3 linked regions of the Homo sapiens genome follow. The protein of the gene in region 3 interacts with the protein of the main gene of each other region in a biochemical or structural test. Each region holds a gene or a part of one and is shown on either strand. Other genes may lie near its edges. The genes, in order: MAPK8, RAC1 and MAP3K4.

Region 1 (3,655 bases), on a different chromosome or scaffold from region 3:
TTGCCAAATCAAACTCACTCTTTGCACCCTCTCACTCCTGTGCTTTCCTGACTTGATTTTTGCATTTTTCCAAGCTTAAGACCCTCCTGTCTACATTCATTCACTTCATACTTCTCATATCTTGACCTCTACTTTGACTGCATGCTCTCTGACACCAGACTAAATTATATTTCCGGGAGCTGCCTCTGGGTGCTAAGCACATAGAAAGCAGCCTATACACATAGTCACACCTTGCTTAAGGACGGGGATACCTTCTGAGAAATGCATCATTAGGCAATTTCGTCACTGTGCAAACATCATGGAATCTACTTACACCAACCTAGATAGTACAACATACCTAAGCTATAATATGGTGTAGCCTACTGACCCTAGGCTACGAACCTGTACAGCAGGTTACTGTACTGAATACTGCAGGCAACTGTAACACAATGGGAAGTATTTGTGTATCTAAACATAGAAAAAATAGAGTAAAAATATGGTATAATTTTATGGGACCACTGTCACATATGTGGTCTGTAATGGACCGAAACCTCACCATGTGGTGCATGACTGTATCATCAAATAAGACACAAGGCAGTTAACTGCTAATCCTACATTCACTATCAAGTGATCCCCAACTTGTCCATTTAACATTTTGAAAACCACAATTCATTTCAAGTTACATTAACTTTAGAGAGAAAACTTCACACTACTTTAAGTATTCCCATAATCCCTCCCTAATTTCATTATTATTCATAACATTTAAATACTCAACAGATAAACAGATATTTTGGCTCATTTTACATATAATGGAGGAAAACTATAATCTTCTAAAATCACCACTATAAATGCAATAAGAAAAAATATAAGAGTATAAAAAGTTGGGGGAGGGAGGAGGTAAAAATCAAAGGAAACAAAAAAGCTGGCATGACATAAGAAAAATAAAAAATTCAACTACAAAACTATTAGAAATAATAAATATTCTACAGGGGGCTTATTATTTAATATATGAAATATTAACTAATATACAAAATAAAAAGCTTTCTTATATATAACCAGATAGAAGATAAAAGTGGAAAAAAAGATGCCATTTCCAGCAAAAAAAAAAAAACTTAAATATATAAAACAGCAAAAAAAAATTTTAATGTTTAAAAATGCTATCAGGAACTCAAAATGAGACTTCAACAAATGAAAAGGTTGTTTTTCCTATTCTTGGATATAAAGGTACATCATAAAGCTGTCACTTATTCTATAAATACAAAGAAATCCTAACAGTACACTGAATCCATTTAATAGAAGCCAATCACTGGGGAGCAAGGTAACTTGAAAAGGATGTAAGAAAAGGTTCTGGGTGATGGAAGTGTTCTGTATTTTGATCTGGGATTGCACAAGTGTATACAAAGGCAAACTTATTGGACTGTAATGCTTGTGCATCTAGCTGTGCATAATTTTACCACAATAAAATAAAAAAAGTGATTCCAACAGAAAGACTGGCAGAGGAGGGGTACAGACTAGACTAGATGGGTTGTTTTTAGAAGTTCATATAAAATAAACAAGATAGAAGCCAGAAAAAAACTTCTGAAAAGGAAGAGAAATAAAAGGGAATTAGACCTAGCAGAAAACACAGCATAAACTACAATAATAAAAACAGGATGGCTCAGGTCCCAAACAGGCAGATGGGTCAATGGAAACAATGGTACCAAATACACGTGGAAATTTTGTAAATGGTAAAGGTGGCATTTTAAATCAGTTAAGACAAAGATGGATTATTTAATAAATGGTGTAGGGACAAATGGATGGATATCTGGTGAAGAAAATAAAGTTGGAACCATACATAATAGCCTACCATAGAATGGAAAACAGCAAATTGGGGAAAAACATTTCCAAAAAATAGCATGGAGCCAATTTGTAAAATTAATCCTACAAATCTAGGAAAATGAGCAACAAAGCAATAGAAAAACATGCAAAGACAAGGACAGTTCAAAAGAAAGAAAACACAAACAGCCCTTAAAAGATGAAAGACGTCTAAGGGTAATAAGAAGCAGGCATCCTTACACAGTGCTGGTGGAATGGAAGTTGGACAACCTCTACAGGCTACACTTCAGCAATACATAAAATTACAAATGCACATACGCTGGCCTAGGAACTCTACCTCTGGAAATTTATCCTATGCATTTAAGTGCAACACGACGTATGCACAAGGTAATCCACTGCACCATGGCTTTTGATAGCAAAAGTCTGAAAACTACCTAAATATGCATCAGAAAGGAGTTAAATGGTATACCAGTATAATGATGTTATGGACTGTCTGTGTCCCTCCAAATTCATATGTTGAAGGCCTACCCTCTAACTTGATAGTATCTGGAGGAGAGACCTTTAGGAGTTAACTAAGCCTCTCATGACTATATTAGGTCATGAGGGTGGAGCCCCCATGATAGGATGAGGAACAGACTAGAGCTCTTAGGGGCCATGTGAGGATACATCCAGAAGCCGGCCACCTATAAAGCCAGGAAAAGGACCCTCACCAGGGAACCAAATTGACTAAGTAGCCTAATCTTGAACTTCCCGACCTCCAGAACTGTGAGAAATAAATTTCTGTTGTTTAAACCACTCAAGTTATGGTATTTTGATATAGCAGCCCAAACAGAGTAAGACAAATGGAATACCACAAAGATGTTAAAAAAGCATGCCATTTACATACTGATATGACTGATATAAAATAATCTCTCAGCTATATTAAAACAAAAAGCAGGCCACGTGCGGTGGCTCACACCCGTAATCCCAGCACTTTGGAGGCCAAGGCAGGTGGATCACCTGTAATCCCAGCTACTCAGGAGGCTGAGGCAGGAGAATCACCTGAACCTCGGAGGCAGAGGTGGCAGTGAGCTGAGATTGTGCCACTGCACTCCAGCCTGGGCAACAAGAGTGAGACTCCGTCTCAAAAAACAAACCAACAAGCAAAAAACAAAAAAGCAAAAGGTGATACATATTGCATGCAACAACTTACATTAAATAAAAAGGGAGGGAGCAGAGCAGAGGCTATACAGTACTGTATATATGTATGACACCTATCCTTCATTGGCAAAGCCAAAATCCATAAAGCTGTGAAAAATACGTTTTTAAAATAAGTTTAGTACAAACGTATTTGGTGGTAAAACCTGACGAGACGTAGCATAAGATTTTATAATCTTTATTCACCCTACTTGTATTTGTTATGCTTTTATAAAAATATTAATGTCTTTGATTATTTCTGGGTGTTGTTGTTGTTGTTGTTTTTTGAGACAGAGTCTACACCTCTGCCGCCCAGGCTGGAGTGTAGTGGCACGATCTCAGCTCACTGCAACCTCCGCCTCCTAGATTCAAGAGATTCTCCTGCCTCAACCTCCCAAGTAGCTGGGATTACAGGCGTACGCTACCACGCCCAGCTAATTTTTGTATTTTTAGTATAGACGGGGTATCACTATGTTGGCCAAGCTGGTCTCAAACTCCTGACCTCAGGTGATCCGCCCGCCTCGGCCTCCCAAAGTGCTCAGATTACAGGCGTGAGCCACCGCGCCTGGCCTATGTCTGTATTTTTTACAGAAATGTTAATGTGTTTAATCATGAGGCTACAACCTCTTACTAGGGATTTTGGATAACACGGTAGATGTGCTACATTATCTTTCCACAACTGCAA
Region 2 (3,125 bases), on a different chromosome or scaffold from region 3:
GACAGAACGGGCTCTACAACCGCAGGGGAAGGGGGGAAGGGAAGAGAAACAAAAGGAAGGGAGTTCCTCCCAAAGCAAATAGATCACTTTGTTTTTGGTAAAACAATTTCTTAGGGTCATCTGAGAAAATTCATCATCTGTTCAGAAATGAGAATAAACTACCTAGCCCAAGGTCTCAGGTCTGCCGCTATTATCTCCACTGAAAATGCCCCTACTGAAGGGCCTCACTTGTCATTTTCACTAAGAAGTTTGTGAAAGAGACTGGAGTAGAAAGAAATGGTCGTTATTTTTATTAGACCAATTCTGAGTGCCTCATTATTTTAATGAGACCCAGGAAACTTCTGAACCAGAACCTGAAGCTTTAAAAATCCACGTATTAGGCCGGGCATAGTGGCTCACACCTGAAATCCCAGCACTCTGGGAGTCTGCGGCGGGTGGATCACTTGAGGCCAGGGGTTCGAGACCAGCCTGGCAAACATGGTGAAACCCCGTCTCTACTAAAAGTACAAAAATTAGCCAGGTGTGTTGGCGGGCACCTGTAATCCCAGCTACTAAGGAGGCTGAGGCAGGAGAATTGCTTGAACCGGGAGGGGGAGGTTGCAGTGACCCAAGATTGTGCCACTGCACTCCAGCTTGGATGACAGTGCAAGATTCTGTCTCAGCCGGGCACGGTGGCCCACGCCTGTAATCCCAGCACTTTGGGAGGCCGAGACGCGCGGATCACCTGAGGTCGGGAGTTCGAGACCAGCCTGACTGACGTGGAGAAACCACATTTCTACTAAAAATACAAAATTAGCCGGGCGTGGTGGTGCATGCCTGTAATCCCAGTTACTCGGGAGGCTGAGGCATGAGAATCACTTGAACCCAGGAGGCGGAAGTTGCAGTGAGCCAAGATTGCGTCACTGCACTCCAGCCTGGGCAACAAGAGTGAAACTCCATCTCAAAAACAAAAACAAAAACAAAAAAAAAGACTCTCTCAAAAATAAATAAATAAAATAAACTGCTGATGGGCCAGATGCAGTGGCTCACAGCTATAATCCCACCACTTTGGGAGGCTGAAGCTGAAAGATCACTTCAACCCAGGAGTTTGAGACAAGCCAGGGTCTACAAAACCAGCCATACAAAAATTCTTTTAAGATTAGCCACGCATGGTGGTGCACATTTATGGTCCCAGCAACTCAGGAGGCTGGGGCAGGAGAACTGTTTGAGCCCAGGAGTTCAAGGCTACAGTGAGCTCTGATGTCACCACTACAACTCCAGCCTGGACACAACAGAGTGAGACCTCCGTCTCAAAAGAAAAAAAAAAACCCAATCATGTACTTAAGTAGCAAATTGCTAAAACCAATTTAAATAACTAAAAATTCCTAGGCTAAGTGATATTTTAAAGTATTTATTTCTGAGAGGATCATTCTATAACTTACATACACATTTTAAATCCCCACCTACCTTTGCACGGACATTTTCAAATGATGCAGGACTCACAAGGGAAAAGCAAATTAAGAACACATCCTACAAAAAGGAAACACAGGGAAACATTTAGACAACAACCTTAGAATGAAGCATGCACTTTGCTTTCTACATGTTGCTGGGAAGGACTTGTTGGACGCAGAGCGTGTCTACCAGTGGTGTGGTCAGACGCTTCCTGATCCACCCTTTCAGTTTGTCAGAGGGCTCCCAAACCAAACCCAGCATGTCAAGCCACCAGTTACTTATGAAAATGGGGAGCATGAAGGGAGAATGATGCTGGAAGCTCTTCAAGGATCAGGAGGATCAGACCAGACCCTCAGGAGGCTTCCTTTACGCCTAACTATCTAAAATGAAAAAATCAAGTATAAAGGTATGATTCCAATATTTCTGTAAAATCTGGTTTAGAGTACAAACAGTTTTAGATGGTCACTGGTTCCAATTAAACTGCTTCTTCAGGAGCTGCCTGTCACAGCTCCCAGCACCAAGCGGGGGCTCCAATATTTGCTACTTGAGCCCTTCCCTCCACAAGGAAGGAGGACTTAGTGTGTAAGTGGCACCTTCACAGCTGACAACCACCCTCACGCTGCCCTAGAGTCAGCACAGCCAGGGCCTCAGGAGAACTCGCTCCCGGGGCAGCTGTGGCTGACGCAGAGGCGCAAAGGGTGGGTGCAGAGGACAGAGTAGAGGGTGCTTCGGGGCACACGCCAAACATCTGCATGCTTCATCCATTCTGTATTTTGTGTCAAACCAAATTCAAATATTCACCTGTATTTAAAAATGCCCAAGAATTCTAAAATGCTAGATTTCTAAAATATTCTCCTGGAAAAAGGCAATTATGCTACTTTATGAAATGCACACAATTCCCAAGCTACACTTTCAACCCTCCAGCTGATACCTTGTACCTGAAAGGGAAAGAAACATCCCACACAACAGCTTTTTATAACTGGCATTTGAAGAATGCTGGCGCATGCACAAGCTCGTCCAAGAATCACCGCGGCACCCAGCACACCATCTCAAGCACGGTGGGGTTAGCTCAGCAGCACTGCACAGCCACGCCCAGACAGCCCCACCACACGGGACACCCAAGCGGAGAAAGAAGGCCCCGGCAACAAGGTTAGTCCTGCTCCGGCTCGGCTCACAGCCAGGTGGGCTTCCGGGAGGAGTCTCCATATCTGCATCTCCAACCAGCCAGGAGAGGGGCCCTCTCACTGTCCCCTCCTTTCACTTGGGAGGAGAAGATCACAGTTCACAAACTGCTTTAATTCAAGCCGGTGGGTAAACTATCACACTCTAATGAAGTTTATTTCATCAAGCAAAACCCCAACCTTGAGTGAATTAAATATAAAACACTCAAGGAGCTTGAGGCTTAATAAAAAATCCTAGGAAAACGAAGTGAAATGAGAGAACAGAGAAAGCTTGAAACTGAAGTGGACTGAAAGTTTTACATACGGCAATCGGCTTGTCTTTGCCCCGGGAGGTTATATCCTTACCGTACGTTTCTCCAACCTAGTAATGCATGAGAACTTGGTTTGAGTTTAGTACAGACTGAGGACAACAAAAATCAATATAACCTCTTATCGATTCTTTATTAGAATTTTGTCTTAACCCTCCGGAGAGATCCAAAAGCATACAATAGATTCTAACATATCTTCGATGAC
Region 3 (3,655 bases):
CTCAATGGACTGCTGGAAAGCTTTTCTCTGAATTGTGAGATGCGCAGACTGCATGACAACTAGTAAAAGATTATCCACCTGGGAGGAAAATCAAGCACAGGACATAAAAACCAACCCAGTTACTAGTTGTTATTCTAGTTCAACACCAGTCCAAAAACAATGCCAATCTCAGGGATACCAGGCCAACAACCATCTAATCAGAAAGTCATTTTTAAGCAAAGCTTCTCCTACACAGCAACACGCTTCAGTGGGCATTGACAGCTGGGATATTCAGCACCACGGAGAAGAACCCTTTGGGACTGCAGGCATGACATCTTTGAGATATCCTAGAACTTCAAGTAGTTCAGTACTGCCAGTGCAGAGTGTGTGTGAGTGTGTGTGTGTATGTGTGCATGTGTGTGTGTATTGGAGCAGCATATGAAGAAGGAAAATGTAGGAATAAGACAGAAATAAGATGAGGGGCCTTATATAAAACATTAAGAAATCAAGACTTTATTACTTTTGTTCTTAAGAGATGAAGAATCTTTGCAGTATTTTAAGTAGATCTGTGATGCAATCAGATGTATTATAATGATCATTCTAGAAGCACAAAAACAAACACAGAATTGGAGAGACAGAAGGTGAGGTTTGAAGCAGGGAAACTCAAAGTCAGAAACTGCAATAGTTCAGGAGAGGGATGGTAAAGTGCTGACTACAGCAGCTGCTCTGGGGATGCAGGGAAAGGATCATTTACTGGAAATGCTTCTGGCTTTCCAGGGCAAGGTATTAACTGGAAAGATGGGAGGCTGAATTTATATTAGCTGTCACACTTCTGGTTTAAACATGTGAGTGAACGCGGAACCATTCACTGAGACGGAATATAAAAGCAGAGTTGTTGGGGTGAGGGATACAGCAGGCCAGTGTATACTCAGTTCTGGTGAGGCTGAGCTCAAGGTGCATATGAACACTCACCATGACTGTTCCTAAGCTGAACACAGATAAATGAGAAAGCTTCTCATAGTTTATAACTAATGAGTTATAGAAACTGTCACGAGGTCCCTGTTAGGTAGGGAGGGGATAGCCTTCACTACAAAAAATTAAAATTAAATAACCAGTAAACCTGAGTACTTGGAGAACTGGGATTTCTAGAACTACAAATTATATTAGTGACATAACTCCTTTTAGATCATAGCTCCACAGATCTAACTACATGACTGAACTAAGAAAAGATATAAACCAGATAGATGGTTTATTTCAAGTATTCCAGTATAATTTAACTTAACAGAATGATATATTGTACAAATTATGCTGCAAAATGACCTATTAACACATTGAGGCATATTTTTGGGAAGTATATACTTGTGATTACTAGGGTAGTCAAACCCCTCATTCATGAGCAGCTAACAGTTCATTCTTACTAAAAGTCCTTGAAGTAACACTGCTGCAAAGATGGAGATGAGCTGTACCTGCATGCTTCTCAGGGTGTCAACAGTCTCCACCTGAGGCACGACTTTGACAGGCTGTGCCTCCCAGGTGCCCCAGCTGTCCTCTGAATCACGGGCTCGATCACCGTGCTTGGTCAGAAGCAGATAGGCATCGATGAGTACGTCATCTGAATCTTTTGAACAGTCCTTTCCTGCAGCTGCATTGAGTAACTGCAAAATAATACTCTTCTCCTCAGCAAGAGTGTCTGGAACAAACATTTGCAAGTTTTCTAACCCAGGAATTTGCACCTGCAAAAGACATAATCCAAAATCTTAAGGAACACTGTACATTAGAGAAATAGGTTATTTAAAACAAACCTAGGAAAGGAGAGGCAGGTTTGGGAAAGGGAAAGTGGGAAGGGCATGAATTGGAGCAGTGAGGGAACTGCAGGTAGCCGGCTTCAGTGTGACTGAAGGAGGCAGGAGGAGGAGAGTCTGTGAACGCACTGGAGGAGAGGCCTTACAGAGTCTCCCCGATTATTGGACATCCTCCTCACTGCTTTATTTTCAACAACAAAGAAAATACTCGACGGGGAGGCAAGGCAGCCTGAAAGAACCTCAACCACTGCTAGTTTGTGATGCTTACAAAAAGTCACCTGGCTTGGGAAAAAGGCAAAAATTGTTAATACAGATTCTCTAATTATTCCAGGGCAGGGAGCCAGGGGTTCATCACAAGAAGGCTCCTTGAGATCAGTTTCTCAAAGGGTACACATGTGGTGGCACGCTGCAGGTCATCCCTCCCACTCTCAGTATGGGAGCGGGATACAACTGTGGGCTTGGGATAAAATGTCCAGTGATGACATCACATACGGATTCTAACTGTGCTAAATCTCCAACAACTTAAAGTGGAGTAAAGTTGCTGACTCAAAAAGTGGCTCTAGTGATGACCAGGATCTTGATGTCAAAGATTCACTGTAAAACCTTTGAACTGCATCAGGAAATATAAGGGTGAAAAACAAAACCATAATTTAAAATGAATATTATCTCCTTATACACATTATTTTAAATATGTGTAACTAAATTAATAAACAGCATGAGTAAACTTTTTATTATTTATCTACACTCTGAAGACAAGTTAGTAAGTCAAGTATGAAAAAGACTGTTTCATTATTCCACTGGTGAATTACAGGACAGTCTTACAACTGGGGTTGTGGTACAGCCTTCAGAGCCTGTAATATTTACTATCTGGACCTTCAAGAAAAAGTCTGCCTGTTTTAGAATAAAGAAGGAAAGGCAAAATGTTTCAATCACAACATTTGAAGTACTTACCTTGACATACTGTTTTGATTTCAGAACATCCAGGAGGTCTCTAACTGGGGCTGAAAGCCTGAATTCTGCTGCTATTTCCAGGTCCTAGGATCACAGTTACAAAGAAACTTCTTTACGGTTAGCATTAAAAAAATAAGATAAAAGAAAAACAAGAAAAAAGGTACTAATTAATCAGGATTGCAAGCTCACCTTTCTCAACATTTTAGCAAATCCAAGTGCTTTGGAAGCCCTTTCTCTGGCTTCATGGAAGAGCTCCTTCAGGGCTCGACTGATCTCTATAACAGACCTCCTGCCAAGTGGATTCAAGTCCAGTTAGAACACATTAGGGAATATTCCAGAGGTGCAAGAGGGATTTAACAATAAAGATGAAGCAAATTCCAAATCACAGTAATAAATAAAGACTGAGGATTTTTTAAATGGGAACAAACTATTATTGAAGATGTAGTCAAAACATTCAGAAGCCTGCTCCTGACAGTTTTGTAGAAAATATTCATATCCTTTCAATGTAAGCAGGGCACATTTAATAACCTTCAAATAATAGGAAGCTCAATTTTCTTAACATTTCATTATGATCATTTCTTGGAGTTTAAGGTTAAGTTCTTAACTCCTGGCTCGTAATCTAAAAAGAAATCTATACAGTGTGATCTGGGAAATATTTAACAACTGGGTGACCCTAAATTACTATCTTATGTAATGCATGCCGATTTCTGTGGTGTAAATACTCCCATCATAGCTAATTTCAAGGCAGCAGTATGATGTCCCTGAGCAATGAAATGGGAAGAGATGTGCATGATCAGCTCTCTCAAGCCGGGAGAAGCAGCTCCAGCACACCACTGCCCATGGCCCCCTGAACTGGAACCGCTCTCTAGTTCACCATCTTCATTCCTGCCTTCTCATGTTTCTTTGGAATCTACATGCTTGGG

The links.
Region 1: of the proteins of MAP3K4 (region 3) and MAPK8, one has a biochemical effect on the other in vitro, tested with the Homo sapiens proteins (one study listed by BioGRID).
Region 2: the proteins of MAP3K4 (region 3) and RAC1 form a complex in vitro, tested with the Homo sapiens proteins (one study listed by BioGRID).

Annotation. Positions count from the first base shown.
Region 1 is NC_000010.11:48,313,037-48,316,691, reverse strand, and holds part of MAPK8 (mitogen-activated protein kinase 8), read right to left. Parts: intron 1-3,655. UniProt on the Homo sapiens protein: Serine/threonine-protein kinase involved in various processes such as cell proliferation, differentiation, migration, transformation and programmed cell death.
Region 2 is NC_000007.14:6,398,510-6,401,634, reverse strand, and holds part of RAC1 (ras-related C3 botulinum toxin substrate 1), read right to left. Parts: intron 2,974-3,125; coding exon of another isoform or gene 2,917-2,973; intron 1,510-2,916; coding exon 1,447-1,509; intron 1-1,446. UniProt on the Homo sapiens protein: Plasma membrane-associated small GTPase which cycles between active GTP-bound and inactive GDP-bound states.
Region 3 is NC_000006.12:161,085,745-161,089,399, reverse strand, and holds part of MAP3K4 (mitogen-activated protein kinase kinase kinase 4), read right to left. Parts: intron 3,022-3,655; coding exon 2,922-3,021; intron 2,817-2,921; coding exon 2,733-2,816; intron 1,713-2,732; coding exon 1,446-1,712; intron 79-1,445; coding exon 1-78. UniProt on the Homo sapiens protein: Component of a protein kinase signal transduction cascade. Activates the CSBP2, P38 and JNK MAPK pathways, but not the ERK pathway. Specifically phosphorylates and activates MAP2K4 and MAP2K6.